2 separate regions of the Homo sapiens genome follow, and region 1 is linked to region 2. Evidence: fine-mapped expression QTL. A gene starts in region 2. The other region holds a variant in brackets. All regions are shown on one strand. Distances are from middle to middle. Region 1 overlaps RAD51L3-RFFL (RAD51L3-RFFL readthrough). Region 2 holds the start of LIG3 (DNA ligase 3).

Evidence for each region. PIP is the estimated chance that this variant, and not a neighbour inherited with it, causes the effect.
Region 1: its variant is fine-mapped to the expression of LIG3 in stomach (GTEx, PIP 0.90).

Annotation. Positions count from the first base shown.
Region 1 is chr17:35,063,471-35,080,300 of GRCh38, forward strand. All of the region lies in intron 5 of RAD51L3-RFFL (RAD51L3-RFFL readthrough), which reads right to left. It overlaps RFFL (ring finger and FYVE like domain containing E3 ubiquitin protein ligase), which reads right to left and starts at 237. Exons shown (of 7, transcript NM_001017368.2): 1 at 106-237. It also overlaps the pseudogene RPL37P22. RefSeq lists enhancers at 1-987, 74-869, 319-418 and a silencer at 9-78. The variant T/C (reference allele first, on the strand shown) is at 9,256.
Region 2 is chr17:34,969,679-34,985,321 of GRCh38, forward strand. LIG3 (DNA ligase 3) reads left to right here and starts at 10,834. Exons shown (of 20, transcript NM_013975.4): 1 at 10,834-10,944; 2 at 13,324-13,874. The coding sequence starts at 13,328. RefSeq lists a silencer at 10,859-11,288.

The DNA.
Region 1 (16,830 bases), 94 kb after region 2:
AAAAAAAAAAAAAAAAACCTGACTCACTTCTGAAGACAGGATTTTCCCAGTTTCTAATGCAGCTTCATCTAGCTAATGAAACTTAAGAAAACAGTTTGAGGTTACCTGATTTTGCCAGTTTCAAAACATTGCCACGACAGAAAGCAAGCTGTCTCTAGTTCCTGTGGCTGAGGTCGCTGGAGCCATGTTCAGATGAGATCATCTCAGGAACCAAGAGCAGCGGCTTTCATGTGAAGTGAATGGTGCCGCCTGGGGATGTATCTTTGGTAAGCAAGATTGCAACACAGCAGGGAGTTTACCCAGGGCAGTGCTGACTCACGCTGGGCAAAATTTGTACTTCCCAAACAACTCAGCCTGAACCAACCGCAGTCAACTGCAACCTAGGAAAGAAGAGGCAGCTCACTGATTGTTTTAAATCAAGTGCTGATTACTGGGGGCAGGTAAACCTCATTCCCCCACTACTGGTAACTTGGCCACCTCCAGAGCCCTTACCCAAAAAGTTCCAGTGGCCAGTTTCTAAAATTTCATCTGAGAACAGGCTGGGGCTGGGGCCAGCAAGATTACTGAACATAGCAGGTTCACAGCTCTGAAGATTTCCCCAGGAGGCTGATAAATAAGTCACTTTGCATTTACAAATTAGAACATCTGGGTCAGTGGACTCAGGGAACTTGCCCAGTCATCATTAGCCAGTCAAATCATTAGGGTGAATTTTTGTCAGTTCTAACCAGGCTCATTGTTCTTTTTTCCCACTAGGCCTCCTCTGACCTCTCTATTTCTTCAGACAACTCAAGTTCTCTCATTAAGATAGATGCACTGGAATTTTTTTTTTTTAATCAGCTGCCACATTCTCTATGCTAAAGCCAAATCATTTACCATCACACCTACTGGATGCATAGGGAATACAGAAGACTATGAAAATCACCTTAACACTTGCTCTGAAAAGAGACATCCCTAAATTTATGTCAATTCTCATTTATTAGCCTGCTTATTTAAAAAATCAATCTAGAATGACTGGCTCATCAACAGCTATTAATTACTGAATTTGCCCTGACAGGCTAGAATTGACATTGGTGTTATACAAAAAAAAAAAAAAAAGATCAAGTCCTTGCTTTTTGTGTGCTTTAATTTGACAAGAGAGAAACTAAAGTTCCTATTAGATCCTTCTGTTTCCTGCTTAAAATGTATGACAGTTCCCCAAGGCCATCAGCTATTTCTTAGCAGGGCATTTGAGGCCTCTGCACCCAGCTTCGTTCATCCTTTAAGGTAGGTCTCACATGGCATGAACTCTGGATGTAGCTGCCAACTCAGCTTGTCATTCAATAATGTTAGGTTAATTAAAATGTACGTGCAGACAGAATTTGAGTTTAAAAACTATACTACTTAATTTTCTATTCAAGGGGCTAGTTTTAAAAAGTTATTTATCCAACTCACTTAATTCTCCTTAATTACATTATTCCAGTAGGATAGCCACGCTGAGCTTTGATAAGGTATTATAAAATGTTCCCTGTTTTATTTCCTCCCCTTCAGTGTTTTCCTTTCAGAAAATGGCTTTGTTTAAAGAAGTTTCCCTATAGTACATGTTAATTAGTCCTTTCTGAATGATAAACACATCTTTATAGCAGCTGACAACCATTATCTCTTCAACCACACTTTAAAAAAAATTTCTGTAGTTGATGATAAGTTACAAATTCTAGTATGAAACAACTCTCAAGGTACAGACAAATATGGAACCTCCTTCAGAAAAAAAAAAAATGATTAGAAAAGCTCCTGACCTGTTCTGTATTTGCGAACTTTAAATAAGAGGGCCGGGCACAGCGGTTCACGCCTATAATTGCAGCACTTTGGAAGGCCGAGGTGGGCGGATCACCTGAGGTCGGGAGTTCAAGACTAGCCTAACCAACATGGAGAAACCCCCATCTCTACTAAAAATACAAAATTAGCCAGGTGTGGTGGCACATGCCTGTAATCCCAGCTACTCGGGAGGCTGAGGCAGGAGAATCGCTTGAACCCGGGAGGCAGAGGTTGCAGTCAGCCAAGATTGTGCCATTGCACTCCAGCCTGGGCAACAACAGAGCAAAACTTCGTCTCAAAAAAAAAAAAAAAAAAAGAAAGAGAAAATCCAGACAGTACTATGCCCAGGAGACAGATACGAACTATATAAAGAGCAGCCTGAAGGCCAAAGGCATGGAACTCCTAAGTTGACTAAGAGAAACACCATTGAGCAAGTGAACAGAGCTGCTGCAGCTTATCATTCCCCTCTTTGGGACTCTGATACAGTTTTAACCAACTGCCCCAAATTATAGCCACACTCCATCCTAGTTCTTCCTTTTAAAGTGGAAAGGTTGAGGATTACATTTTAGAGCTTAAAAAGGTACTCGTTTGAACTAGTGGTTTCAGGCACTTGAGGATTTATGAGGTTACATGAAAATTATGAGAATATGAGGCTATGGGAGAAATAATAACTGTGGCTTTCTGACTAAGTTCTTTCAATACATTATTTTAAAATTAGCCAGGCATGGTGGCATACACCTCTAACCCCAGCTACTCTAGAGGCTGGGGCAGGAGAATCACTTGAACCCAGGAGACAGAGGTTGCAGAGCCGAGATTGCGCCACTGCAATCCAGCCCAGGCGACAGAAGGAGACTCCATCTCAAAACAAAAAACAACAAAAACAGAAAATACGTTATTTTAAAACTCAAGTAACTTAACACCCAAAACTATTTATGCTTTTTTTAATAGGGTGGTCTCAACAGATATTTAATGAGTGTGCATATGTGTATGTGCCCATTGTTTCATTTGAACAGACATATGTGATGTCATTGACATCCCAGATTTACTTTCTTTTCTGCAATAGATCTTGACATTATAAACAATAAGCAGGTTTCAAAAGAGAAATTAAAATATCCATTTCTCAGGATTCTGTAGTCTTCCAAATCCACAGAAAATTACCAAATACATACAGAAGATCTGGGAGGATGCACACAGCAGGGAGAGCACTGTAATGGGAATAAAGATCAAATAGCTATGTTTAGCTTTATCCAAATTACCCCCCAAAAATCATGAATTTTTTTACAACAAGCATATATTCAAATATGACTTGGTAGTTTAAAATTCAGTTAAAATTTTAAAGTTTGTATCACTTACAAACTGCTTTACTCTCTCTTCACACTCTTTCCTCTCAACATCTCCCTTTTATCTACTTCCCTACCCCCAGCATCCTAAATGATACTGCACATTTCTTGTTTTTAACAAAATTAATCTTACTTGTGTCCACATCCTTTTTCTAACTGAGAAGTCGGTGAATGGATAAATGCACATTTCCAGGAATCAGTGCCTGTCTCACCTTGTTGATAATTAATGATTGCCAAATTCTAATCTTGGTGTTCAGTGACCTCACAGCCTTTTTTTTTTTTTAACTATAGAACATAGTATTTAAGAAAAACAATATGATGGCAACCAAATATTTATCATCTAATAAATCACAGAAATTAAACATGAAAAATGAAGTAAACTTTATGATACTCAACAATTAACTCTAGGGGTACTTAAGAATCAACAGGGGTGCTTATTGAAAATGAACATTTCTCATCCCAGTCCCTCAGACACTCTGAATTAGCAGACATGGAGGGAGGCCCCAGAAACTGAATTTTTTTTTTTTTTTTTTGAGACGGAATCTCACTCTCATCGCACAGGCTGGAGTGCAATGGTGCAATCTCAGCTCACTGCAACCTCCACCTCCTGGGTTCAAGCAATTCTCCTTCCTCAGCCTCCCAAGTAGCTAGGATTATAGGCGTATGCCACCATGTCTGGCTAATTTTTGTATTTTAAGTAGAGACAGAGTTTTGCCATGTTGGCCAGGCTGGTCTCGAACTCCTGACCTCAGGTGATCCACCTGCCTCAGCCTCCCAAAGTGCTAGAATTACAGACGTGAGTCACCATGCCTGGCCAAAACTGAATTTTTAATAAGTATCTCTCTCTTCCAAGCCTTTTTTTTTTTTTTTTTTGAGACAGAGTCTCGCTCTGTCGCCCAGGTTGGAGTGCAGTGGCACAATTTCTCGGCTCACTGCAACCTCCACCTCCGGGTTCAAGCGATTCTCCTGCCTCAGCCTCTCAAGTAGGTGGGATTACTATGCACCACCAGGCCTGGCTAATTTTTGTATTTTTAGTAGAGACGGAGTTTCGCCATGTTGGCCAGGCTGGTCTTGAACTCCTGGCCTCAAGTGATCCGCCCGTCTCAGCCTCCCAAAGTGCTGGGATTATAGGTGTGAGCCACTGCGCCCGGCCTTCCAAGCAATTCTGATACAGATGGGCCTTGGATCATGTTTTGAGAAAAAGGACACAGCTATGTTCCCTAAGCACTGTTTAGAGTAAAATGAAAAAAAGTTTTTTCAAAGACCTCCAAGCTGAACAGTAGTCACACTGAGCAGGTCCTAAACATAAGTCCGCTCACCCACAAGAACCACAAAAAATACAAACTGTATTCACTTTGTTGGTTGGACCATTATTTTCTTCAAGCCTTCAGAGACAATTATCCTAACTACCATTAAGGATTTCACCTGTCACCCACAGTCTTGTTATACTGAGACATTTTCACACCTGGATATGATACAAGGGGCTTAATGGAATTTTTATGGCTAAAAATTAAAGTTCATTTGACTCAACAGAATAGTCAAATAAAACAAAGGAGAAAACCCAAAGGAACAGGTTGAAAGTAGAGGCTTTTGACTTCCTGATGAGCCAATTTTGCCCAGAAATTCAAACCATGGGATGCTATATAGCTCATATGTCTTGAGAGTGCCCAAATGTCAACTTATCGCCAGAGTATCAGCCAGTGCAGGCTTACAGTAACATTTGGAAGCACAAATGTGCTGTATAAAATGGCCTCTCCTGGGAGATAGAGGCTGTCGCCATGGCAGAGATCATTCCATCTTGGGGCCAGAAGGACCAGGCAGTCCCTTTAATCTTTAACAAGCCACTTTCACATTTAGATACAGGAACTGGCACTGCATGAGGCTCAACCTGCTTCACAGCACTTTGCTGCAAAACAACCCCCCAGTTGTGTGAGGGCATGCTAACCCAGTCTGTCCCCACTGGTGCAGTTACCAGAATCTATTCTATAATGCAATTGTGAGTACTTTATTATCCACTATGGTGTAATACTTCATAGCTCAGAAAAGGTATCCAATATCAAGAGGCTAGCAACTGCCTACCTCAGGCACAATGAAATACTAGGTTCCTGTATGTCAGTAATTGAAAAAGTAGCAAGCATGCAGGAAAAGAAAGAATCCAGAGGGGTCAGGACCCAGCCTGAGGACCCGATGGAGGAGGAGGAGGAGAAAGGAAGTCAGCAAGAAGTCAGCAACATGACCAAACTGCTATCTTGGGCAGCTCATTTCAGAAACCCAGCAACAGAAACCTTGGAACCATTTGATGGGTATAATTTTCTATATAAGGCTATTTCTTAGTTTTCTGTTTTTTTTCCCTGAGCAGCTAATACAGTAGAAGGGCAGGGAAAAGACCCCTGTCATCAAACTCCATCACCTAAATTCTAATAGCTTCATAATGAAGTGACTTAGCAGGCTCATGTCCTATTACTACCTTGCCGCAGTAACCATACTCTCAGAAAAAAGATTCTGTAATTCAACTCTGAAGATTGCCTGAATTCATCATTCTTCTTTTCTGTATACCTCTGAATTCGTCTCTTCTCCTAATACACACACTCACATGCTCTGTCTCCCTGACACACATGCCCTGCCTCCAATAAGTCAAACTTCCTAAACGTCTACCCTGGTTTCCACTAATAATGCCCCAAGATTAACTTACCTTTGTTCATGTCCCCAAGTCTAGGGGGCCTTTGTCAACACGTGTTTCATCTTGAAGGGTGATTTCTAGCCAAGTAGATAAGATTACCTGTTCACCTACAGTTAATCTTCAACCTGGTTTCTGCAGGCTATAGAAATAAAAGGATACGACTGCACAGCTTGAATGTCCCATCAAGGTAATCAAAGTAATGGAAGAGGGAGAGAAGGCAGAAGGAGAGATTTCAAAATAAAGACTGAACTGTGTACTTCAGTAGTACTTAGGAAAACACTCCATCTGACTAAGCAGCTGATGAGTAGACAAATACCCAAAGGACTGTGCATTCTCTGAAGATTATTGTGCTCACAGTTCTCACTTCCCCCAAAGTTCTGCAAGAGATCACATCATAAAATCAGCCTTGCATTATTTATAATAAAGTGGAGAGATGCATCCTAACATCCAGTATTCTACTGATTTACTCACAAATAAAGCTAAAACCTTATTTCAACTGAAACCCATGTAACAAGGAAGAAAACGTATTTTCTTTAGGTCTTTCAAAGGTACCTCTCTCATCCCTTTTATAACAGAACAGACAAGGGTTGGAGAAAGGAACCCAAAGCTCCATCCCAGGTCCTAAATGCTTTAAAAAATTCACATTAAAAAATGCTCCATAATACATTACCCATTTGAAAAAAAGCACTGTGAACAGCAGGGGGGAATATATATTTAATTATATATGATAGATACACACATACATATATATACATACACACCGAGAGAGGGAGAGCACGCGCACGTGCAAAAGAGCGAGCGAGCACGCACACATATACTAAAACCATTTAATAGCAGTTATTCCTAGTAGGGATGGGGGTCTAACTTCTACTTTATGCTATTTTAGCTGGGTTTTGTTTTGTTTTTCTGAGACAGTTCTCACTCTGTCACCGAGGCTGGAGTGCGGTGGTGTGATCACAGCTCACTGCAGCCTTGACCACCCTGGCTCAAGCAATCTCCCACCTCAGCCTCACGAGTAGCTGAGATCACTGGTGCATGCCACCATGCCTGGCTAATTCTTTTATTATTTGTAGAGATGGGGTCTCAATATGGTTCCCAGACTGATCTCAAACACCTAGGCTCAAGCAATCCGCCTGCCTCAACCTCCCAAAGTGCTGAGATTATAGGTGTGAGCAGTTTAAGTTAATCGTATTAGAAATAAAGTACCTAAGACCATTTGATAACATAAACCAAAACAATTTGAAAAAGTTTTTAGGGCCTTTGGAAGCCAAATTTTGAGTACATTTAAAGCTACAGTCATGGAGGCAAAAGTATAAAAAATTAACAAGAAATTCACAGTTTTGAAATTGTATTATTTGTCTATGGGCAGTACTGTACTGGGAGTGCTGTGCTATCTATTGCTGGGTAAAAAGAGTTTGTCTAGGGTCTTGCTGTCAAGGAAACCATGGCAGGGGTGCTAAAAAGCCAGTCAGCAGACCACTGTGACACTGTATGGAGGCAGATTCATTCAGAGAGCTAAAAATACAACTCAAAAATCTTCTATCTTTGTCAGTCGAATCAGTTTTACTAAGTAATCTGATGAACTTAAAAACCAGATATAACACCTATTAGAATAGCTAAAATTTAAAATGGTGGCCAGGCACGGTGGCCCATGCCTGTATTTGCAGCACTTTGGGAGGCCACGGCAGGTAAATTGCTTGAGGCCAGGAGTTCGAGACCAGCCTGGCCAACAGGGCGAAACCCAGTCTCTACTAAAAATACAAAAAATTAGCCAGGCATGGTGGCACATGCCTGTAGTCCCAGCTACTTGAGAGGGTGAGGCAGGAGAATTGCTTGAACCTGGGAGGCAGAGGCTGCAGTGAGCCAAGATTATGCCACTGCACTCCAGCCTAGGCTACAGAGCAAGACTCCAACTCAAAAAAAAAAAAAAAACAAAAATTTAAAAATGATGACAATATCAAATGCTGGTGAGGATGCAGAGAAACTGGATCTCATACACTGCTGGTGAGACTGTAAAATGGTACAGCAACTCTGGAAAAGAATTTAGCAATTTTGGCCCGGTGCGGTGGCTCACCCCTGTCATGCCAGCACTTTGGGAGGACATCGTGGGCAGATCACTTGAGGTCAGGAGTTCAAGACCAGCCTGGCCAACATGGTGAAACCCTGTCTCTACTAAAAATACAAAATTTGTCTGGTAGTGGTGGTGCACACCTGTAGTCCCAGCTACTTGGGAGGCTGAGGCAGGAGACTTGCTTGAACCCAGGAGGCAGAGGTTGCAGTGAGCTGAGATCGCACCATTGCACTCCAGCCTGGGTGATAGAGTGAGTGAGACACTGTCCAAAAAAAAAAAAAGTTTAGCAATTTCTTTGGAAAACTGAACATACACTTACTTACCTTAAGAACCAGCAATTTCATTCCTGGATGCTTAACCCAAAGAAACTAAAACTTGTGTCCATACAATCACCTGTACACAAATGTTCATTATGGCTTCATCTGTAATAGCCCCAAACTGGTAACAACTAAAATGCCCTTCCGGTGAATAGTTAAACAGCCTGTGGTATATACACACCATGGAATACTACTCAGAGATAAAAGGAACAAACTATTGCTGCCACACAATAACTTGGATGGATGGTGTGACACTAAGTGAAAAATGCCGGGTTCAAGACCAGCCTGGGAAACACAGTGAGACCTATCTCTACAAAAAATACATTCGAGGCTGGGTGTAGTGGCTCACACCTGTAATACCAGCATTTTGGGAGGCTGAGGCGGACAAATCGCTTGAGCTCAGGAGTTCAAGACCAGCCTGGGCAACATGGTGAAACCCTGTCTATAAAAAAAATACAAAAATTAGCTGGGTGTGGTGGTGCACACCTGTAGTCTCAGTTACTCAGGAGGCTGAAGTGGGAGGATGGCTTGAGCTAGAGAGGCAGAGGTTGCAGTAAGCTGAGATTGCGCCACTGCACTCCAGCCTGGGCAACAGAGCCAGACACTGTCTCAAAAAAAAAAAAAAAAAGTTCCAATTGTTCTATGCATATAAAAGTAAAAAACAAAAAACCCAGTCTTAAAAGGTCACATATTGGGTCACATACTGTTATGATTCCATTTCCATAATATTTCTGAAATGACAAAATTATAGAGACACCGAACAGATTACTGGTTTCCAGAGATTAGGACAGTAGGGAAAACGGATATGCATGATAATAAAGGAGTAGCACAAGGGGGATCTTTGTGGTGGTAGAACAGTTACACAAATCCATACATGTGATAAAACAGCAGAAAACTACACACACACACACACACATGCACACACACACAGAGCACCATGTCAGTTTCCTGGTGTTGATATTGTACTATGGTTAAATGAGACATAACCAATGGGAGAAAAACGGGTGACGGGTACATGGGAACTGTGTAGTGTTTTTGCAACTTCCTGTGAATCTA[T/C]AATTACCTAAAAATAAAGTATAAAAAAAAAAAAGTGGTCGGGCGTGGTGGCTCACGCCTGTAATCCCAGCACTTTGGGAGGCCGAGGCAGGTGGATCACCTGAGGTGGAGAGTTCGAGACCAGCCTGACCAACATGGAGAAACTCCGTCTCTACTCAAAATACAAAATTAGCCAGGCATGGTAGCGTGCATCTGTAATCTCAGCTACTCAAGAGGCTGAGGCAGGAGAATCACTTGAACCCAGGAGGCAGAGGTTGCAGTGAGCTGAGATTGTGCCATTTCACTCCAGCTTGGGCAACAAGAGTGAAACTCCGTCTCAAAAAAAAAAAACATGAAATTATTCAGTCAACTGTCCAGCCACTACGGGGAGCTAAAAAAGGCAAAATGTTTATAAAGTATAGCATGTTTCATACTATTTTGCAGTCTCTACTATGCAGGAGAGATGATTATTTAAGCATAGATTGGTTGTTGGCCCAACTATCTGAAATACATTCAGGCACTACCTGTGCCCTATCCATCACAATATTTTTATCGAGCCTCACCAAAGCCATGAGTAATGGGCCAGAAGGCTGCAGAAGTAACTAGTCCAGAATGAATGAACTCTCACTGCAATTTTAGCTCAGCAGACAGTGCCTGCTATCAGAAACATCCAAAAACCACAGCAATTAGACAAATAAGTTGTGAAAGATGTGGTTTCCAGGTAAGATGTGACAGGCTTCTTACCGCAAATAGTTTTTCTTATAAAAGAAGAAAGACTGGTGGGAGAGATGGTGGAAAAAATGAAAACAATGTTTCTTCTATGATTCTCTGGCCCATCCTCACAGGACTTCATATGTAGTGAAGGCAGAATATTTGCCTCAAGCCCAGATGACCAACTTTTACTTTCTACACTGACTCAGGCTTCTTACTGAAAATGGTATATCACCATTTACTCCACTAACATCACTTACAAGATGAGGCCCTATGGGGCACTAACATCTATGTATCTTATGTAGAATTCAATTAATTGGGAAGGCCTATTGACAAACAGGAAGACCCCACACACAGACACACACGCACACACACACACACACACACAAAACAAAAAATAACCACCAGTGAACTCTTCTCTAACCTAATGCTTTATTTATTTAGCCAAATGTGCTTTTAAGGGTGACTGGCTTACACATCAAAAACGTTTACAATTTTAGAATAAACTATAAAACATCCTTCAGCACTAACAAAGCTAAAACTAGTAAAATAAGTAACAAGTATTGCTAACATCATTTTTAAATCACATTCCACACAAGTAGGCCCATGTAGTTTTATGAATAAAACTATTCTTTTTTATTTTAAGAATTAAAAAGTGATGTTAGTGGAATAAATGGTGAAACACCATTTTTAGGAAGAAGCCTGAGTCAGTGTAGAAAGTAAAAGTTGGTCATCTGGGCTTGAGGTAAATATTCTGCCTTCACTACATATGAAGTCCTGTGAGGATGGGCCCAGACAATCATAAAAGACACATTGTTTTCATTTTTTCCACCATCTCTCCCACCAGTCTTTCTCCTTTTGTAAGAAAAACTATTTGCGGTAAGAAGCCTGTCACATATCTTACCTGGAAACCACATCTTTCACAATTTATTTGTCTAATTGCTGTGGTTTTTGGATGTTTCTGATAGCAGGCACTGCTTGCTGAGCTAAAACTGCGGTGAGAGTTCATTCATTCTGGACTGGTTACTTCTGCAGCCGACATATTTGTAAAGACTTATTCAAAAGGTAATCATCCTGACGGAGTGTGAGGCAGCTGTCACCCAGTAGTTGACAGCTCAACCTTGACAGCTGGAATACTTGGGTTCCAACACTGTGAGGCTTTGGGCCCCCTCTTTAATTTCTCTGTGCGGCATTTTCACATTTGTGGAACACAGATAACACCTACACACCTCATAGGATTGTTAGGAGGATTAAACTTGTTAATACAGCAAAGTCCCTGGCACCTGGAGAGCACATAATAACTGTTGGTAATTTTCCTACAGGTAAAATATGGCACAAAGAGAAGTATCACATAGCAAAAGAAGTGCTAGTCTTTTGATCAGTCTTACACAAATTCTCCCATACTTTTAGACAAGAATAAGCCTTCCCCTAACTCCCACTGAAGAATGCATACAATTTCATTCAGAAAAAGTATCATCTGACACAGTGGAATGAGTGAAATAAATCCTGCTGAACATGCCCAATGCTTCCCTAGCTCCTGTGGCCAACATACAATTTCAATAGGAAAGGGGATTGTTTGTAAAGACAGTTTTATAACATCTGTCACCAAACAACAGTGAAGTTCAAAGTGAAAATTCAAGATTTCACATAGCAGGCAGAGGGACTTTCAAAAACATCTGTCCTCTCACTCCTGTTCCCCATCCCTCTTTCCTAATCAAGGTTATAATAACGCAAGCCCTCTGTAAGCTGGCACACAAGCTGACAACATGCTACCCTGCTGAACAGTCATCAAGGAGGAAAGAAAGGCCCAGGGGGCTGCTACAACATTTCCATAAACCTCTTATCCTTAGCTAAAAAGGTAAATTTGTTCTAGAGATGCTTAAAGAAAAAACACTTGACTGGCATAACCTAGACACATGCAATACCTTTTTCCCATTTCTAGTTTTCTCAAGTATTCAGGGAATGACCATCGACATTTTTGGAATCAGAAACAAATTGTTTCCAAAAGTGTTAAGCAGTGCTTGTCCAAAGGCCCCCATATAGCTAGTAATTTAGACAGCTGTGTTAGGAGCCACAGAAGCTGCATTTTCTAACCAGTATTGCTTGTGAACAATTGAAACTTTCTCCAGTGCAAAGTCCAGACACAGGAAGCAGTGTTCTCCAAAAACATTCAAACAGTTTCATTATTGTTTAACTACCAAAATAACAGCTCCAATAATCTATCAAGTTTGACATTTCATCCAACTAAGCAATTAAACCAGGATGAAAAGCATGCATGGAGAGATTTCCCTGCCTGCTCCAAATCAACACTAATTTTGACATTATAACCACAAAAACTAATAATGCATCCTCGTAGACTATTCACAAAAGGCTTCTAAAAAGCAAACACAAAAGCGTCTCGAAGAAATTGCACACCCCTAAATTTTATTTTCTGTCTCCCATCTTTAAGCATCTTAACTGTGAGTTAAGTTACAGGCCAAGAAGTTAGAAACTCCTTTCCAGTATTTAGTCAAAAAGAGGGGAATATGCCTCCCAATACAAGCACCCAATGCAAATTCTATCAATTTATTCTTTTTTTTTTTTTTTTTTTTTTTTTGAGACGGAGTCTTGCTCTGTCTCCCAGGCTGGAGGGCAGTGGCATGATCTTGGCTCACTGCAATCTCCACCTCCCATGTTCAAGGGATTCTCCTGCCTCAGCCTCTCGAATAGCTGGGACTACAGGCGCGTGCCACCACACCTGGCTAATTTTTGTATTTTTAGTAGAGATGGAGTTTCACCATATTGGCCAGGCTGGTCTCGAATTCCTGACCTCAAGTGATCCGCCCGCCTCAGGCCTCCAAAAGTGTTGAGATTACAGGCATGAGCCACCATGCCCGGCCTCAATTTACTCTTAAATATATTAAAGGTTGGCTACTGTGGGCACATTGCCTATAGGGTAGCCCTGCTCTGCAAGGAGCAGTAATTTTAAAAATAATAGTAAAAACGCCGGGCGTGGTGATTCATGCCTATAATTGTAGCACTTTGGGAAGCCAAGGTGGGCAGATCACCTGAGGTCGGGAGTTCAAGACCAGCCTGACCAACATGGAGAAACCCCATCTACTAAAAATACAAAATTAGCCGGGTGTGGTGATGCATGCCTATAATCCCAGCTACTTGGGAGGCTGAGGCAGGAGAATTGCTTGAACCCGGGAGGCGGAGGTTGCGGTGAGCCAAGATCGCACGATTGCACTCCAGCCTGGGCAACAAGAACAAAACTCCGTCTCAAATAATAATAATAATAATAATAATAATAATAATAATAATAATAGTAACAGAAGCCAGATGATGAAGGGAACATCATCGTTTGGAAAGCATCACAATAAGACGTGACAGGACGTACCACCTTCAGAAGTCGACCTGTGGCAAATGTGGCTATGCTGCCAAGCGCAAGAGGAAGTATAACTGGAGTGCCAAGGCTAAAAGACAAACTACCACTGGAACTGGTCAAATGAGGCACTTAAAAATTGTATACAGCAAATTCGGGCATGGATTCTGTGAAAGAACACCACCTAAACCCAAGAGGGCAGCTGCTGCAGCATCCAGTTCATCTTAAGAATTTCAACAATTAGTAACACAATAAATGTTCTGGTTTTTAAAAATAAAAATAAAATATATTAAAATAAATTATATATATATTAAATATATATAAATTATTTATAATAATTAAATAAATTAACTATATAGTTCCTTAACTAGTCCCTAAGTATTATCAACTTTGGTTCTGACCTAGGAAACCACCAAGTCATGAAACTTCTCTCCCCAGGTAGGAATGGGAGCTCTCAGATGGTAGCTTCAGTTATAGGTGGCATGAGGAAGAAAATGATCAAGGACCTCTGATATCAAGTTCTTAAGATGTCCTAAGAACCACTTAGAACAATGCTATTCAAAGTGTGTGTGTCAGACTGCTGGAGGCCCATTCACGTCAAGATAAAACACAGAAAATCACAGTAAGCATTTAGAAACTTTTCTAGTGCTTGACATTGCTGTGACATCCAAGTGCATGATTTTTCTGGTGATTCCCTTTTCTTGTACTTTACACAATTATTGGCTGGCAACAGATTAGGGGTGAAGGGAAACCCTTACAAAGCTGGTCCTTCACCACAGATAGTTTAAGAAGCACAAACTTTTCACACTATGAAGTGCCAGTTCAGTCATTATTGTTCTGAAGGAATCAAAGTACCTTTGCCCTCATTATCTTATAGCTTCTGATTTAAAGGCAATCAGATAAACCAGCAAGGAGGCACCCTGGCATAATCCAAGCTTGATCAACCCATGGCCTCCGGGCCCAACACAAATTCATAAACTTTCATCAGCTATCATTAGTGTTAGTGTATTTTATGTGTGGCCCAAGACAATTCTTCTTCTTCCAATGTGGCCCAGGGAGGCCAAAAGATGGCACACCCCAGACTATAATCTAATGGAAAGAGCACAAATCCACAGTAGTCAGCCAACCTAGCTTCTGGTCTGCAAGAGTCAAATAACTAGCTGGATATCCTAGTTAAGTCTGAGCCTCTTGACTTTTCTGTGCTTTAAATTCCTCCTCTGCAAAATAATAGCATTTCTCAATCTTTTTTTTTATGTGTGGTTCTTTCTCACATAAATTCTTTCTCCAAGTGGGGTCTACAGATAAACTACATCAGAATCCCACATCTCTATCCCAAACACTTTGATTCTGTAGGGCTGGGCTAGGAACCAGGAATCTTTATTTTTTACAAGCACCTAGGAGATTTTTGATCATAGTAAAATTTAAGATCTATTGCAGTAAACATATAACCTTACTAAAGACTTCAGGAATAAAAAAAAAGGTCACGATTTGTATGTAATCTCCAATAAAGAAGTTATTTGATTTTTATTATTTTTTTTCTGGAGACAGGGTCTCACTCTGTTGTCCACACTAGAGTACAGTTGTGCAACCATAGTTCATTATAACCTCAAACTCCTGGACTCAAGCAATCCTCCCAACTCAGACTCCTGAGTAGCTGAGACTGCAGGTGCACAACACCACATCTAGCTAATTTTTTGTATTTTTTGGAGACAAGGTTTTGCTATGTTGCCCAGGCTGGTCTTGATCTCCTGGGCTCCAGTGATCTGCCTGCCTTGGCCTCCCAAAGTGCCAGAATTACAGGCATGAGCCACCAGGCCCGGCCCAGAAAATACATTCTAATATGCTTTCATAATATGTGTAATACATAACAGCAAATTTCCATTTTTCCCCATCTTAAAAAGGGATAGGCTGGGTGCAGAGGCTCACATCTGCAATCCCAGCACTTATCCCAACACTTTGGGAGGCCGAGGCAGACAGATCGCTTTAGGTCAGGAGTTCGACACCAGCCTGGCCAACATGATGAAACCCCGTCTCTACAAAAAATACAAAAATTAGCTGGATGTGGTGGCACACGCCTGTGGTCCCAGCTACTCAGGAGGCTAAGATGGGAGAATCACGTGAACCCAGGAGGCAGAGGTTGCAGTGAGCCAAGATGGCACCACTGAACTCCAGCCTGGGTGACAGAGTGAGACACTGTTTCAAAAAAAAAAAAAAAAAGTGATGTTTGGTTGGGAAGACCAACGGTATATCAAAACACACAAACATTTAACTAGTGGCATCAAAAACTGCTTTCCTGACACGATATTCAGAACTCGAATATGGTATATCGATCCCTCCCAAATAAAACTAGAGGCTTATTTTTATGTTTGTGTTCCTGGGATTACAGGCACGCACCACCATGCCTGGCAAATTTTTGTATTTTTAGTAGAGACGAGGGTTTCACCCTGTTGGCCAGGCTGGTCTTGAACTCCTGAACCCAAGTGATCCACCCACCTCAGCCTCCCAAAGTGCTGGGATTACAGGCGTGAGCCACCGCCCAACCTGTTTGTGTTGTTTCTAAAACAACAACATAAGGAGAAAGATTTCAGTCTGTTTTTTTGCTAGCATTTCCACAAATAACAACAGAGCTATAGATAGCCTGTATCTCAAATAAAAACCTAATTAGATAGTAATTGTCAACGTATTTTCCTTTTTAATACTGCTTTTGGGTAGTGCAAGAGACATGTTGATGTGCTGTGGTGAGGATTTTATCAAGTAAATGCAATTTAAGAATCTGATGAAGATCATCTAGAGGTGAAGCTGCAGAACTACTATCATTTTAATGTCCCCCATTAATTGGTGGGCTCACAGTCACTATTCCTCAAGCTTCTGGTCTCTAACTGTGTCAACATTTCAGAGTTGGGAAACACTGAACTAGATCAATGGGAGTGGTGGGGATGATTCAGAATCATCTGAAGTGCTGGATTCAACCATATGGCCAAGGGTACAACAGGAAGGTGGAATGCCCTTTGACAAGCTGAGAATATTCTGACATCCCTCTTCCCACCCTCTCAGTAAACAATGGCTAAGGTATACTTTAGCTCTGACACAGAAGGATTACACAAACTCTTCCATCAGTATATGATAAGTAGACAAACATAAGAGAATCTGGAAGATTAAGAATTCTCCACTGTGGACTGGGAAAGTCCTCATCTCATAAATTATTCCTTCCCACCCCTGCTTGCACATAATTTTAGCCCCTAACTATTCCTTTCCACCCCTTGACAAAAATCCAGATTCCTCAAACTAGCTGAATTTCAGTGGACCTACTCCTGCTAAGGCCCTAGAAAACACTCCTTCCTCTCTCTCCAAATTAGAACATTCCTTTGCCCAGCATTTTAGAATAAAGCATATGCTCTGGCTGATCTTCCACACCATGTAAAATAATAATTAGTATAGTTAAGATGGTACAATCCAACCCAACTGCAAATGGTTATGCATCTACTGACGCAAGACCTAGAAGAGGGTTGGAAGTTGATAGA
Region 2 (15,643 bases):
TCATCTTGAATTCCCACGTGTTGTGGGAGGCACCCAGTGGGAGGTAACTGAATCAAGGGGGCAAGTCTTTCCTGTGCTATTCTCGTGATACTGAATAAGTCTCAGGAGATCTGATGGTTTTAAAGAGAGGAGTTCCTCTACACAAGTTCTGTCTCTTTGCCTGCTGCTGTTTACATAAGACATGACTTGCTCCTCCTTGTCTTCCACCATGATTGCGAGGCCTCCCCAGCCATGTGGAACTGTAAGTCCGTTAAACCTCTTTCTTTCGTAAATTGCCCAGTCTCGGGTATGTTTTTATCGGTAGCATGAGATTGGTTTTTTTTTTATCTCACCACCCCCCACCAAAAGTGAAACAACTATTATCACTTCATTTTAGATGTCTAATGACTTGTCCAAGGTCACTCAGTAAGTTAATCACTAAGACTAGATGTAACTTGATTTCCTAGTCCAATATATTTTCTATATTTAATAATAAAATGTGCAAAACATGACAGGATCCCCAAAATAGCAAGAATTAAGATGAGGGAAGTTTGCTGTCAAGGTTAAAGCAGTCCAGTGCTTTTCACAATCCCTTGCTAGGCTGGGAAGTCCTCTTTGTTGCAGGGTGTTATCCTCAGATTTTCTCCACACACTCCCACAATACTCTGCCTTACCCTATTTCGCCAGCAATAAAGTGTGTACTCCTTAGTGGTCTCTGATGGGGGGAAGAATGATGATTTCAGTTCTCAGAAATCCCAATGGGAAACAACAGTTACAAAGTGCCCTGTGATCCACCGCTTTTTGACAAGGTGACCTTGGGCAAGTCACTTCACTCTTAGTTTCCTCAACTATTAATATAATCCAAGGAGAGTAATAGTTCCTGTCTCCTAAGATTAAATGAGTTAAACGCATGTCAATGCTTTTAGTATAGCACCTGAGCCATACAGTAAGCACTCACTAAGTGTTGCCTGTTATTATTGTACTGTATGGTTTCCGTATTCTAGGAGACTGCCCTTCCTCCATGTGACCATCCGCAGAGGGTATCTGAGGGAAAATGCTTTTGCTCTTTTGGGGATAATTTAGAAGTAGAAGAGGCACTGGATTAAGTAGAGTTATTTCCCAAGGTGGCTTAGACCCACTTGCTTCCATTCACTCCCTCTCATTTGTATATGTGACATTTATTGAGAACCTACTCTATGAGAGTTCCTAGGGATTCAAAGATGAATAAAATGTGGCCCTGAACAAAGGGATCTCAGTCTAGATCAGGGCTTTTCAACCCCATCACTATTTTTGTTTGGTTGGTTGGTTGGTGGGTTGTTTTTCCGAGACAAGGTCTCGCTCTGACGCCCAGGCTGGAGTGCAGTGGTGTGATCATAGCTCATCTCAGCCTTGAACTCCCAGGCTCAAGTGATCCTCCTGCCTTAGCTTCCTGAGTAGCTAGGACTATAGGCACGAGCCACCACACTCAGCTATTTTTCCCCCTTTTTTTGGTAGGGACAGTGTCTCCCTGTTACCACGGCTGGTCTTGAACTTCTGTACTCAAGTGATCCTCCTGTCTCAGCCTCCCAAAGTGCTGGGATTACAGGCATGAGCCACCGTACCAGGCTTCCCTCTACACTATTGACATTTGGGACTGGATAATTATTTGGGCTGGGGTCTGTCCCGTGCATCATAGGATGTTTGGCAGCATCCCTGACCTCTATCCACTAAATGCCAGTGGCACTGTCACAACCCCACCACCTCATCGTGTTAGCTAAGAGTAGCCCCCAGTTGAGATCTACTGGTCTGTTTACAACTAACTATAATATAATATGATAAAATATGTTTGTGCAAAGTGTTGAGTGGGCAGTGTGTTGGAGGAGCAACTGACTGCAGGGAGGAGGGTTCAGAAAGGCTTCTGAGGAGGCAAAATTTGCACTCAGCATTGAAGGATGAGAAAGACTGTGCCAAGCAGTGAAGGAGGGAATGAGTATTGTGGACTAAGGTAACAGTGGCACAGAGACATGGAAAGTATGCAGTGCTGGGGAAACTGTCGCCTCAAGTACATGGAAGGATGTGGTGGAAATAGGACAGGAAGTCCACTGGGACTAGATTTACAAAGAACCTTGCATGTGAGCCTAAGCAATTTAGACTCCAGCCTGAAAGCAGAAATCCAGCGTGGGAAGGAAGAGAAAAAAGCACATTCGTTTCTTGGAAAGACTTACCATCCTCAACTGGGAAAAGATAGAGACGATGGACAAAAATGAGTAATTCCTTCTTTTAATCTGGATTTTCTTTCCAGTTATGGATTGGCTCTTCAGCCCACAGCTTCTATACTCCTCGAAATAAGAGGGAAGAAAAACTAGAGAAGCCCTCCTATTTTAGAACACAAGATTCACTCAAGAAAAAGACTCAATTTTACTCCTCCAAATAGTCCTTGAAGCTACTTGAAAACCTCTCATAGCAGAAACTGATATATTCTTTTGGTTGATGTCTTTTTATTTTAATTTTCAAAAAGTTTAGGAAATAGAAGCACACAGGGAAGTACAGAAAATAATATAACAAACATCCTGTACCCATTACCCAAAAATTTCTTTAAGAAATAGAAAAGTACAGAACACAGCTAAAACCCAAGTTAAAGAGAGTTTAGGTTTTAGATAGATACTTGGGCAGGAGGACACCTGGCTAACATTTGCAGCATCAGACATCAGTGTGCAGGTTCTGGATGAAGGGCTGTCCCACCTAGTCTGTCCAAATGGGCCCATTTCAAAGACAATGGTTCCCTAACCCAACTATATCCAATGCCCTATGCTGACCTACTCAAGGAGATTCTAGGTCAGTGGGTCTAGGTTGGGGCATCGGAAACAGTATGTTAAACAAGTTCTTCACGTAGTTCTGCAGTGGCAAAAACCAATGCTTGAAGCAATAACATAACCTGTCAACCTATTCATCTGTTGATAACAGATCCTGCCTCACAAGTTTACTGTGAAGATTAAATACATACACACAAATTGCTTAGCACTGGCTTATAAGAAGCCCTCAATAATACTTATTAACAATAATCAATGTTCACTGAGTACTTCTTTAGTGTACACTACGGTACAAGGGTCTGCAAGAAATTCAAAGGTATATATCAACCTCTCCCTGAAGGCAGAGTCTGAGTTTATCTTACTCACTCAATGCCCTGCACAAAGCAGACACTCAAACAATACTTATTGAATAAATGAGTGAAAAAGTGGCCCTGATCTTCAAGGAAATTACAATCTGGTTGTGTTATAAATAGTATATAAGAAACTGGGCAGGGGCCAGGTGCAGTGGTTCACGCCTGTAATGTCAGCACTTTGGGAGGCTGAGGTGGGAGAATCACTTGAAGCCAGGAGTTCAAGACCAGCCTGGGCAACATGGCGAGATGCCATCTCTACATAAAAATTAGCCGGGTGTGGTGGTGCACTCCCAGCACTTTGAGAGGCTGAAGCAGATGGATCACCTGAGCTCAGGAGTTCCAAACCAGCCAAGGCAATATGGTGAAACCGCATCTCTACCAAAAATATAAAAAAGTCAGTTTTGGTGGCATGCACCTGTGGGTCCCAGGTACTTGGGAGACTGAGGTGGGAGGATCGCTTGAGCCTGGGAAGTGGTGGTTGCAGTGAGTCGAGATGGCACCACTGCACTCCAGCAAGACCGCAACTCCAAAAAAAAAAAAGAAAAAAAAGAAAAGAAATTGGGCAGGACCAAAATATTAAACTACTGGTTATACGCAGTGTAAAGAGGGCTAATCAAAAGTCTAGGGTCTGAGTCCCACTTTGCCACCAATTAGCTGTGATATCTACCTGGTCAGTTTACTCCCTGAGCCTTAGTTTTATCCTCTTGGAGTATTAGGCTATGTCTGGGTACTAAGGACCCTCCCAAGAGGATCCATCACCAAGATCAAGACAGGAGCTGTAGGCAGGGGAGGTGGCAGCATGGGTGGTCAGGAATGCTTCAAGAGGGCTAAAGTGGCACATCTAGAGAAGGAAAGAAAAGGGGTAGAGGCTCTCCCAATATACAGGAATGGCAGGAGGAACAAGAGAGGTAAAGTGTTCAGCCCAGTCTTCAACCTCTGCCACTGCACCAAAGCTAAAAAACCAACTATCATCAAAACTACCTTATCAACCAGGCCAGAGCCCAGTAAAGGAGAACTTTAAACTCCCAGTAAAGGGAGTTTACCTCCCAAATAGGCTCATCTCTTCATAAAATATATTTTCCTTTGAAAATTATTAACTTGTCTCCTGAAAAACATAACCACCAGGACTTCACGCTAGAAAACCCAACCCAGGAGCTCAAGGAAGATGGTGGCAACTTTGAGTTTTCCTCACACCACATCTGTGACCTCAACCCTCTTCTTAACCCTGTCCCAGAACCTCTCTGTCATGGATCAGCTACTCCCAAAGGCAAGTATGACTTCTCTCAGCTCTGCCCTTTCTCAACCTGACAGCTGTAGCACAACATATTCAAAGGAGAGGCCAAGAAACCCCCCTGGTTAAGAACCAACCTCCGCAGCCTTTATTGAGAATGAAGAACGATGAGCTGATTTGAATTATTATATCTTTCTACAGCTATTCCCTTTTAAATATTTATCCTGGCAAATACCAGCACCGTTTTTTACAACTTATTTGAATTGTGTGACTATTAAGCAAACCAACCCATAAAATCAGCTCTTGCTGCTGGGGTTTATGTGATTCATAGACCACAGCTTATTAAAAAAGGGAACCCACTGAGAACAGACTAGCCTCACAAGTGCCCCTCACTATCTCTAGGACAGTGTCAAGCCTTTTCCCAATTCTTGCCTGTGGCTCCCAAACTACCACAGTTAGTAGCATAGAACATGAACAGAATCTACCCATTTCCTTATGGCTCTTTTTCTTTGTAACAATTCTGATGAGTCTTAACTGGAAGTCAGGGTTAGAACAGACTTAAAGGAGACAGTCAAAACTCTTAAGAGGCTCACAAACAGGATAGATGCCGTAGAGGATTTACAGTCAACATCTGTGGAAAGAACTTAATTGAGGACTTTGAATAGCTAGGAACAAGCATGAGATATCCTGATTATTCACCACCAGCTTAGTTCTTGTTTGGATCATAAAACTGCTTTGAGACTCCATAAAAGCTCTTCACCAAAAATGCCCATGCACACAAATGTTTATATAAAATTTCAGGAAATTCAAGGACACCCCTGAGCCCATCCACAGTTCCCCTAGGGGTCTATAAGCCTCAGTTATTTCTTACTATCACTGTTACCACCCAAGCTGCCTTCATCTCTCCCCTAGATTATTAACATAGCTACCTGACTCATCTCCCAACTTCTCTACACAACAACCAGAGTGATAGTGATCCTGTTAAAGCTTAAGTTAGATCACATGACTTCTCGGCTCAATACAATCCACTAGCTTCCCTTCTCACCTGGAATAAAAGCCAATGTCTTTGCAATGTCTTACAAGACCCTACAGGATCTGTCTCCTTGCTCTTCTCAACCTTAACTCCAGCTGCTCTAGCCACATGGATCTCCTTGCTATTGTCCTAAATGACAGTCACATTTTTGGCCTCCAAGCCTTTATCTAATGCTCCATCTACCCTCAATCTGCATGAGGCTGACTCATTTCTTCAAATCTTTTCTCAGTTGTTACTTGTCAGTGAGGCCTTTCTGACCTCTATTTAAAACTGCCACCCTGCCCCTACCCCGCATGTCCCACCCTCCTCTGCTTTCTTCTTCTCCATGGCACCCACTGACTTCTTACACCTTATACATTTTACTTCCCTGTTTGTTATTGATCTCCCACACTAGTTTGCTCCATGAGGGCTGGATTTTTGTCTGCTTTGTTTCGCTACTGTATTACACTCCTGGAATTGTGCCTGATGCAGAGTAGGCACTCAATAAATACTTGACTGACCAATCAATGACTGAGTGATTACACTCTGTAGTGGTATGAATGTATCCAGGCTGGGTGGTGCAGGAGAATGTACATTTATTGAAATGCCTCTAAGTGCCAAGCAGTTTGCAAGCTGACATCAGTCATCTCATTTAATTGGCACCTACAATCCCAAGAGTTATTTTTATCCTCATTTCACCACCAACCCAAAAATGAAATACTTAAGCATAAATCTAATACAATATGTACAAGAGGTGTATGAGGAAAACTACAAAACTCTAATAAAAGAAATCAAAGACAAACTAATCAATAAATATTCCATCTTCATGGATACAAATACTCAATATTGTCAAGATGTCAGTTCTTTCCAATGTAATCTGTATATTCAATACAATCCCAATCAAAATTCCAGTAACTTAGTTTGTGGATATTGGCTTTAGAAACTGATTCTAAAGTTTATGTGAAAAAGCAAAAGATTCAGAATAGCCAACACAATATTGGAGGAAGAGAACAAAGTTGGAGGACTGACATTATCTAAGTTGAGACTTGCTATAAAGCTACAGGAATCAAGACAGTGTGGTACTGGTCAAAGAACACACAAATAGACCAATGGACCAGAATACACAGCCCACAGACAGATTCACATAAATATAGTCAATGATCTTTGACAAATGACCAAAAGCAATACAAATGAGAAAACAGTCTTTTCAGAAATGGTGTTAGATCAACAAGGGATCCATATGGCAAAAATTGAATCTAGATAGATCTTACACCCTTCACAGAAATAAACTCAAAATTGATCCGGGACCTAAATGTAAAACTATCCCCATTTCACGGTGAAAACTGAGACCCGGAAAGTTAAGAAAATAGATGAAAGTTACAGACAGCTGGTAGTGGAACATAATTCAAACCTGTCTGTGCAAATCCAAAGCCCTGCTCTTCCTACCACACTTTGCCTCATTCTCCTTGGTAGAGTAGTTCCCACTTTTCTTTTTTTTTTTTGAGACAGAGTCTCGCTCTGTCTCCCAGGCTGGAGTGCAGTGGCGCGATCTCGGCTCATTGCAACCTCTGCCTCCCAGGTACAAGCGATTCTTCTGCCTCAGCCTCCTGAGTAGCTAGGATTACAGGTGCACGCCACCACCTGGCTGATTTTTGTATTTTTAGTAGAGATGGGCTTTCACCATGTTGGTCAGACTGGTCTCAAACTCCTGACCTTGTGATCCGCCCATCTCGGCCTCCCAAAGTGCTGGGATTACAGGCGTGAGCCACCACACCCAGCCAGTTCCCACTTTTCTAAAGAAGTGCAACTGCCGGCTTTCGTACCTAGTTCCATTTCTTGTGTACCTAGTTCTATTTCACAGCAGGGGACCTGAATCAGAGAGAATCAGGGGGTTCAGGGAGCTCTCATCAAGCAAAAATCATTTACAGCCTAAGTCTTTGCAAGTTTATATCAAATATTGTTATGATATAATAAACATCCTTCTAAGGGATCTTATCACTTCCAGAGTTTTATTCATTCATTCCATTCACTCATGAGTTTCATTCATTATTCACAGATATTTGTTGAGTATCTACTATGTGCCCAGCACTGTTCTAGGCACTGAGCATATAGCACAGATGCCACCCTCTACATGTAGGTTTGAAATCTAAGGCAGTGTACTCTAACAGAAATGTAGTGTAAGCCAAACGTGCAGTTTTATATTTTCTAGTCACCACATTTTCAAAAAAGTAAAAATAAACAGGTGAGATGAACTTTACTATATTTTATTTGACATAACATATCCAAAAAAATCATTTCAATAAATAATTAACATAAAGATAGGATAGTCGTGAGTTGTTTAACAACAGGATACCTTCTGAGAAATGCATCGTAAAGTGATTTTGTGATGGGAATATCATAGTGTACTTACAAAACCTAAATGATATGGCTGACTATATACCTAAGCTATATGGTATAGGCTATTGCTCCTAGGCTATAAACCCATACAGCATGTACTATACTGAATACTGTAGGAAACTATAACACAATGGTAAGTATTTGTGTCTCTAAACATAGGCAAAGCACAGCACACACACACACACACACACACACACACACACACACACACACACACACAAAGGTATAAAAGAAAATGGTCCAAGGTGGGTGGATCACCTGAGGTTGGGAGTTTGAGACCAGCCTGACCAACATGGAGAAACCCCGTCTCTACTAACAATATAAAAAAATTATCCAGGCGTGGTGGTGGGCACCTGTCATCCCAGCTACTTGTGAGGCTGAGGCAGGAGGATCACTTGAACCTGGGAGGCAGAGGATGCAGTGGACTGAGATTGTGCCATTGCACTCCAGCCTGGGTGACAAGAGCGAAACTCCATCTCAAAAAAATAAATTAATAAAACCACACACATAAACAGCACAGTTGTATAAAAATATTTTTCTTTTTTTAAATAAATATTTTTATTTCTTATAAATATGTTGCCTAGGCTGGTTTTGAACTCCTTCTGCCTCAGCCTCCCAAAGTGCTAGGATTAGAGATGTGAGCCACTGTGCCCAGCCAATATTTTTGCTTTATATCCTTATTCTATAAGCTTTTTCCTATTAAAAAAAATTCCTTTTACTTTTAAAACTTTTTTGTTAACAAGACAGAAACACACACATTAGCCTAGTAAGCCTACAGAGGGTCAGGATCATCAATATCACCATCCTCCACCTCTACATCTTGTCCTACTGGAAGGCCTTCAGGGGCAATGTCACACGTGGAGCTGTCATCTCCTCTGATAACAATGCCTTCTTCTGGAATACCTCCTAAAGGACCTACCTGATGCTGTTTTACAGTTAGCTTTTTTTTTTTCAATAAGTAGTAGTATACTCTAAAATAACAATAAGGCTGGGCATAGTGTTTCATGCCTGTCATCTCAGCACTTTGGGAGGCCGAGGCAGGCGGATCACTTGAGGTCAAGAGTTTGAGACCAGCCTGGCCAACATCGTGAAACCCCGTCTCTACTAAAAATACAAAAATTAGCCAGGCGTGGTGGCGGGTGCCTGTAATTCCAGCTACTCAGGAGGCTGAGGGAGGAGAATTGCTTGAACCTAGGAGGCAGAGGTTGCAGTGAGCCAAAATCCTGCCACTGCACTCCAGCCTGGGCGACAAGAACAAAACTCTGTCGCAAAAAAAAAAAAAAAAAATTATTAGCCCATTGTGGTGGCAAGGGCCTGTAATCCCAGCTACTTGGGAGGCTGAGGCAGGAGAATCACTTGAACCTGGGAGGCAGAGGTTGCAGTGAGCCAAGATCGTGGCACTGCACTCCAGCCTGGGCGACACAGCGAGACTCTGTCTCAAAAATAACTAAATTAATTAATTTAATTTAATGACAATAAAAGGTATAGTATACTAAATATATAAACCAGCAACATCGTCCTTTATTATCATTATAAAGTTTTATATACTGTACATAATAGTGTGTGCTATGCTTTTATACAACTGGCAATGGAGTAGGTTCGTTTCCACCAGCATCTCCACAAACACATGAGTAATGTGCTGTCACTATATGATAGGGATTTTTCAGCTCCATTATAATCTTATGGGACCACCCTCATATATTTGGTCCATTGTTGGCCTAAATGTCATTATGTGGTACATATTATTAATGAGATATTTTACTTTTTTTAGTATGAATTTTTTGGTGTGTATTTTCTTCACTTATAGCACATCTCAATTCCATGCAACATTCAAGTGCTCAATAGTCACGTGTGGCTAGTGATTACAGCATTGGAAAAAGACAGATACGGTTGAGGAAACTTAAAAAAATGTAGCAAATGTAGTTGTAGAGACGTGCTCAAGATCACTCAATTATCATAGCTAGGACGTGAGTCTCCAGCGACCTTCCAATTGCCTGGTTGAACCAAAGCCCTGGTTCATTCTGCTGCGCATTAAAAGCAGGCTTTACTCCCCTCCAAACAGTAGAATCGCAGTTAAACTTAGTCAAACAAACTTAATGTATCCAATACAAAACTCATCTTTCTAACCCTAACACCTCCTCTTCCTCTCTATTTTCTATTTCAGTTGATGGTACCATTATGTTTCTGCTCACTCAAATTATTATTATTTTATCCATAAACGAGCACTTTATCTAGAAGATCATTTAAATTCTAAATGATCTTCAAAAACGCACTTTACTCTCCACCCTAACTAGCTGAATCATCTCCCACATGGGTCACTATGAGAGCCTTCTGATTTGTTCCCTTGCCTCAGTCTCTCCCCACCCAGCTTCAGCAGTATTCCCTAAGACTCTTCATGGCTCTCCGTCCTCTACAGAGTAAAGACGACACTCTTCATCACACAGCACAGAATTCTCTCGGGAACCTGTTCTTTGCTTACCTAACAAGGCCCAGTTGTTTGCTCTTCCTAGACTCTGAAGAGGTCACTTACCCTCAGGCTGCTACATTTGTAAAAATCGCCATCCCAACTCTCAAAGAGCTGGCTTCAGATTTGAGATAATACACTTTGAATGATATACAATCAAGGAGTTTCTCCTCCATCACTCCTTTACATTTTATATCTATCTGCTGTTTAGTGCCTCGTCTCAATTCCATGAAAGCTACTGAATACAAACTATTTACTAGGGAGTCTGCGGGACACAAACAGAGGGATTATATTTAAAAAATAGATTGACGCGATCTTTGCCTTCCCCGACCTCATTACAATATAGTTTCTCCACCAATATCTTTAAAAACAGATCCTCTCTAACAGTATGAGAAAATCAAGGGGAGCCTCGGAAGTTCAGGCCAGGCTGCGTTCCGAGGAGCCGCCACGTCCCCCCACCTCCGCTTCCCGGGCCGCGATTGCAGGTTGAAAACTACTCCCAAACATCACAGGGCAGGCAGAATGCAACTACGACCCACGTGGCAGACGGGGGCGGGGACCGGTCGCGTGGCCGCGGCCTTGGCTCTTGCGCCTGCGCGCTGCCTCCCGCTCTAGGACCCGGATTTAAAGAGACAGGCGCTCCAACCGTCGTGGGCTGCCCGCGGCCTGTAATGAGCAAGTTCCGAGGCCTACGGTGAGCGCCGGAGCCGGAGAGGCAGGTGAGGGGCTACGCGGCGCGGCACGGCGCGGCGGGGCCCGGCGTGGGGAAGGCAGCGGGCCCGGGGCGAGGAGCTCGGCGCGGCCGGGGAGCCAGCCCCCCGGCTCCTCCCCCGCCCGCCTGCGGAGCCCCGGGGCACACCCTCCGTGACGTGGCGGCCCTCCCGGGAGCCCAGGGGGAGGCTCGCGGCTCCCCGGGACCCCCACGGGGCCGCGTGAGGCGGGGAGGCCGGCGCCCGGGCTGTGTTCCCTGTGGAACCCACGGGGCCTTCTCGTACCCTGGCCCGGCGTGCGTCCTCCTGCGCTGAACCGGGAGCGCTCGGGTGGGACTCAGGGAGCCTTGATCACTTCCCGCCTGCGTCCCGGACCCGGTGGAGGAGCGCTCCTTTCTGCCTCGCCGGGGGTCGCGGCCTACGCCGCCGACCCCACTGTCCCCGCCACTCTCCGACAGCGGCGCGGGAAGCCCTTCGAGAAAAGCGGCGGCGGCCAGGCCTCAGCGATTTCCTTCTCGGGCCCCTGGGCTGCGGCAGTTGTGAGGGTGCGGAACGAGGGACAGACGGGTTTCCTCAAAGCTGCATTGTGCCTCCTCGTGGCCCAGCGCCTCCCGAGCCTCCCTCAAGTCCACTCCTTTCATTATTGGGGCCCTAGAGGTTGCTCTGTAAATTGATCTTCTAGGAAAAGTGTTGAAACTCACTTGTTCTGACCTCCTTTTATGGGTCTGCCGTACTTCCACTTACCTCACCTCTGTGGTTCTTAAACTTTGGGAGTTATATAGCCCTTTGTGAATATCACGAAAGTGATAGACCTCCTCCAAAAAACCGTGCATTTTTATCGAATGTACATTTTGTATACATTTTTAGAGAGCTCAGAACAGCCTCCCTCCCCCACAACCAGCGCATTCATGGATTCCTTGTAATTTTCCCAACTACCCTGTGAGGTAGGTATTATTTACCCTGCTTTAGAAATAAGAAAACAGATGCAGATAAATTAAGAGTTTTCTCCGAGGTAACAGTCAGTAAACTGTACAGTCAGACTTGCACTCCCATCCCTTATTCCAGGTCCACCAGCTTTCCTTCACATCATGTTGCACTACAGTAAGCAAAGCCTGCTTTTTATTATAACGTGACAGCAATTTTGCTTCACAGCGTGTGCAGACTGAACATAATTCCAGTATACTTAAAACTAGGACTATAAAATGCTTTAGAAAACATGAATATAAGAAGATGCTGATATAATCTTTTTCCATTTGGATTGATTTATGAGTTCCTGTGAGTCTTGCTGCCCAGTGACTTCAGCATTCTCTGATTCAAGTTGCTGAATGATAAACAGGTTAATTGCACATCGGAAGCCTCTTCTTGAAAGATAACGACGTCACCGATCATAATAGGAGCTGACGTTAATGAGAGCTCTTGCTGTGTGCCCAACTGTTTTAAGGGTTTTACTCTTAGAACAGCTCTTTAAGTTAGGCCCCATAATTAGCCACATTTTACAGATAAGGAAGCTCAGGAACAGAGGTAAGAAACCCATCAAGGTTATACAGCTGGTAAGTGGCTGAGTTAGGATTTGAACTCAGGCAGTCTGATTCCAGGCTCTGCTTAGTTGTCTCTCAATATAGGGATTCTAACTCAATTCCAAATCTATATAGTGGCTTGATTTCTGAGGATGGCATATGTGTTAAACTTCACAATAAAAACTTCATGAACATAATGTAATTTTTACTGGTGATTAAAACGAAACTTCAGGGCCAGGCACGGTGGCTCATGTCTGTAATCCCAGCACTTTGGGAGGCCGAGGCGGGCGAATCACCTGAGGTCGGGAGTTGGAGACTAGCCTGACCAACAAGAAGAAACCCCGTCTCCATTAAAAATACAAAAAAGTTAGCCGGGCGTGGTGGCGCATGCCTGTAATCCCAGCTACTAGGGAGGCTGAGGCAGGAGAATCGCTTGAACCCGAGAGGAGGAGGTTGCGGTGAGCCAAGATCGCGCCAATGTACTCCAGCCTGGGCAATTAAAGTGAAACTCCGCCTCAAAAAAAAAAAAAAAGAAAGTTCAGGATCTTGTAATACTTAAAGGTCATCATCCATTATGAGTATCATATGTTGCTGATGGCCTAAAAAGAGCTTTTATGTTATTTGGATTTTCTTCATTGTGATGTACTAGATGTACATGTGTGCATTAGATAATTGAACATCCTGCTGCGAGCTGGCTTTTCCTGTATCAGAACTCTTTCATGCTGTAGAGTAGACTATGAATGTAATACTTTGGAAAGTGTTTGATTAGTCATCATGGACTATATAAGACGCTGGCCTTTGGAAAATTGGAAGCCTATCTCCTTGTTTATATCTTTTTTTTTTTTTTTTGGCCTCCTACTCTTTCGTACAGCTATATGTCTTTGGCTTTCAAGATCTTCTTTCCACAAACCCTCCGTGCACTCAGCCGAAAAGAACTGTGCCTATTCCGAAAACATCACTGGCGTGATGTAAGACAATTCAGCCAGTGGTCAGAAACAGATCTGCTTCATGGACATCCCCTCTTCCTGAGAAGAAAGCCTGTTCTATCATTCCAGGGAAGCCATCTAAGATCACGTGCCACCTACCTTGTTTTCTTGCCAGGGTTGCATGTGGGACTCTGCAGTGGCCCCTGTGAGATGGCTGAGCAACGGTTCTGTGTGGACTATGCCAAGCGTGGCACAGCTGGCTGCAAAAAATGCAAGGAAAAGATTGTGAAGGGCGTATGCCGAATTGGCAAAGTGGTGCCCAATCCCTTCTCAGAGTCTGGGGGTGATATGAAAGAGTGGTACCACATTAAATGCATGTTTGAGAAACTAGAGCGGGCCCGGGCCACCACAAAAAAAATCGAGGACCTCACAGAGCTGGAAGGCTGGGAAGAGCTGGAAGATAATGAGAAGGAACAGATAACCCAGCACATTGCAGGTAAGGTAGAGAACACTGCTTTCTCATCTTACTGGTGCTGAGAGAAAAAGGGATAAGGAGTTCAACTGCTTTCTTTCTCTTTTTTTTAACTTTGCTCTTTTAGAGATGGGGTCTCACTCTGTTGCCTAGGCCAGTGTTTAATGTTGCATTCGTAGCTCACTGCAGCTTTGCACTGCTGGACTCAGGTCATCCTGACTCAGCCTCCCAAGTAGTTGGGATTACAGGCGCATGCCACCATGCCCAGCCTTTAACGTTTTATTTGGAAATAATTTTAAACTCACTGAAGTGTTGGAAGATTAAAAATAGTACAAAGAACATTCATATTCCTTTTACCCATATTTACCTATTAACATTTTACTCTATTTGCTTTATCATATTTGTTCATGTGCTGTCTCTCTCTACATACATACACACGTGTGCGTGCACTCACTTTAAACCATTTGAGAATAAGTTGCATACATCATGGCCCTTTAAAATTCTTCAGTGTATATACCTTAAGAATAGGATATATGACCCTTATGCGACTATAATATAGCTATCATCTTCAGAAAATTTGTCCTTGATGTAATACTTAAATCTACCATCTGTATACTATTTTGTCAATGGATTGAGTCATACCTTCAGTAGCCTTTTCCTGCAGTATAGGATCCCAGTCTAGGATCATATCAGGTGTTGCATTTAGTTGTCATGTTTCTTTGGCCTCCTTTAATCTGAAATATTTCCATAGTCTCTCTTTTATGACATTGATATTTTGGAAGAATAGAGTACTGATTACTATCCTCTTTTACTTTTTTTCTTGTAGCATATAATTCATTACTGTACTTAACTAATTTGATACTTAATTGTCCCATATTTGGCCAATTAGGAACCCCTTTACACTGTCCTCTGTGTCCTGTATACCTTCATTAACTTTTTTTAATGTACTTCTTTACTCTTGAGCATAGCAAGATGCTTTTAGTCTTATCCCGTATGTATCCTTCCCCAGCCCTGAAATTGGTAATTTCTCTGGGGATTCCTGTTAGTGGGAAATGCCCCTGTTAAAGAGTAAAACCTGGATACTATGTGTCCACATTGTCATGGGGTATCTGTTTCTTCTTTTTTTTTTTTTTGAGAGTCTCACTCTGACCCAGGCTGGAGTGTAGTGGCACTATCCTGTTAGTGGGAAATGGTATTAAAGAGTAAAACCCGGATACTATGTGAACACATTGTCATGGGGTATCTGTTTCTTCTTTTTTTTTTTTTTGAGACAGAGTCTCACTCTGTGACCCAGGCTGGAGTGCAGTGGCACTGTCTTAGCTCACTGCAACCTCTGCCTTCCAGGTTCAAGCAATTGTCCTGTCTCAGCCTCCCAAGTAGCTGGGACTACAGGCACTTGACACCACACCCAGCTAATTTTTGTGTTTTTAGTAGAGACAGGGTTTCACCATGTTGGTCCAGCTGGTGTTGAACCCCTGACTTCAAGTGATCCACCCACCTTGGCCTCCCAAAGTGCTGGGATTACAGGCCTGAGCGCCCAGCCATGGCATGTCTGTTTCTAAGCCCTTTCAGCAGACAGAGCTAGAAAATATGTGCGTGTATATGCATGTAAAATTCATACCTATATATGGCTATATATAACATGTTTGCATGTACATGCATATTTACATATGCATATTTTAGAAATTTTATGCCAATACCCCCAAATCCAGTTAGTCCTCTTTGACCTTCAGTGTCTGTAAAATAATGTTCATATCTTCAACTTAGTTCTGGTCACCATAGGAAGACAGTTA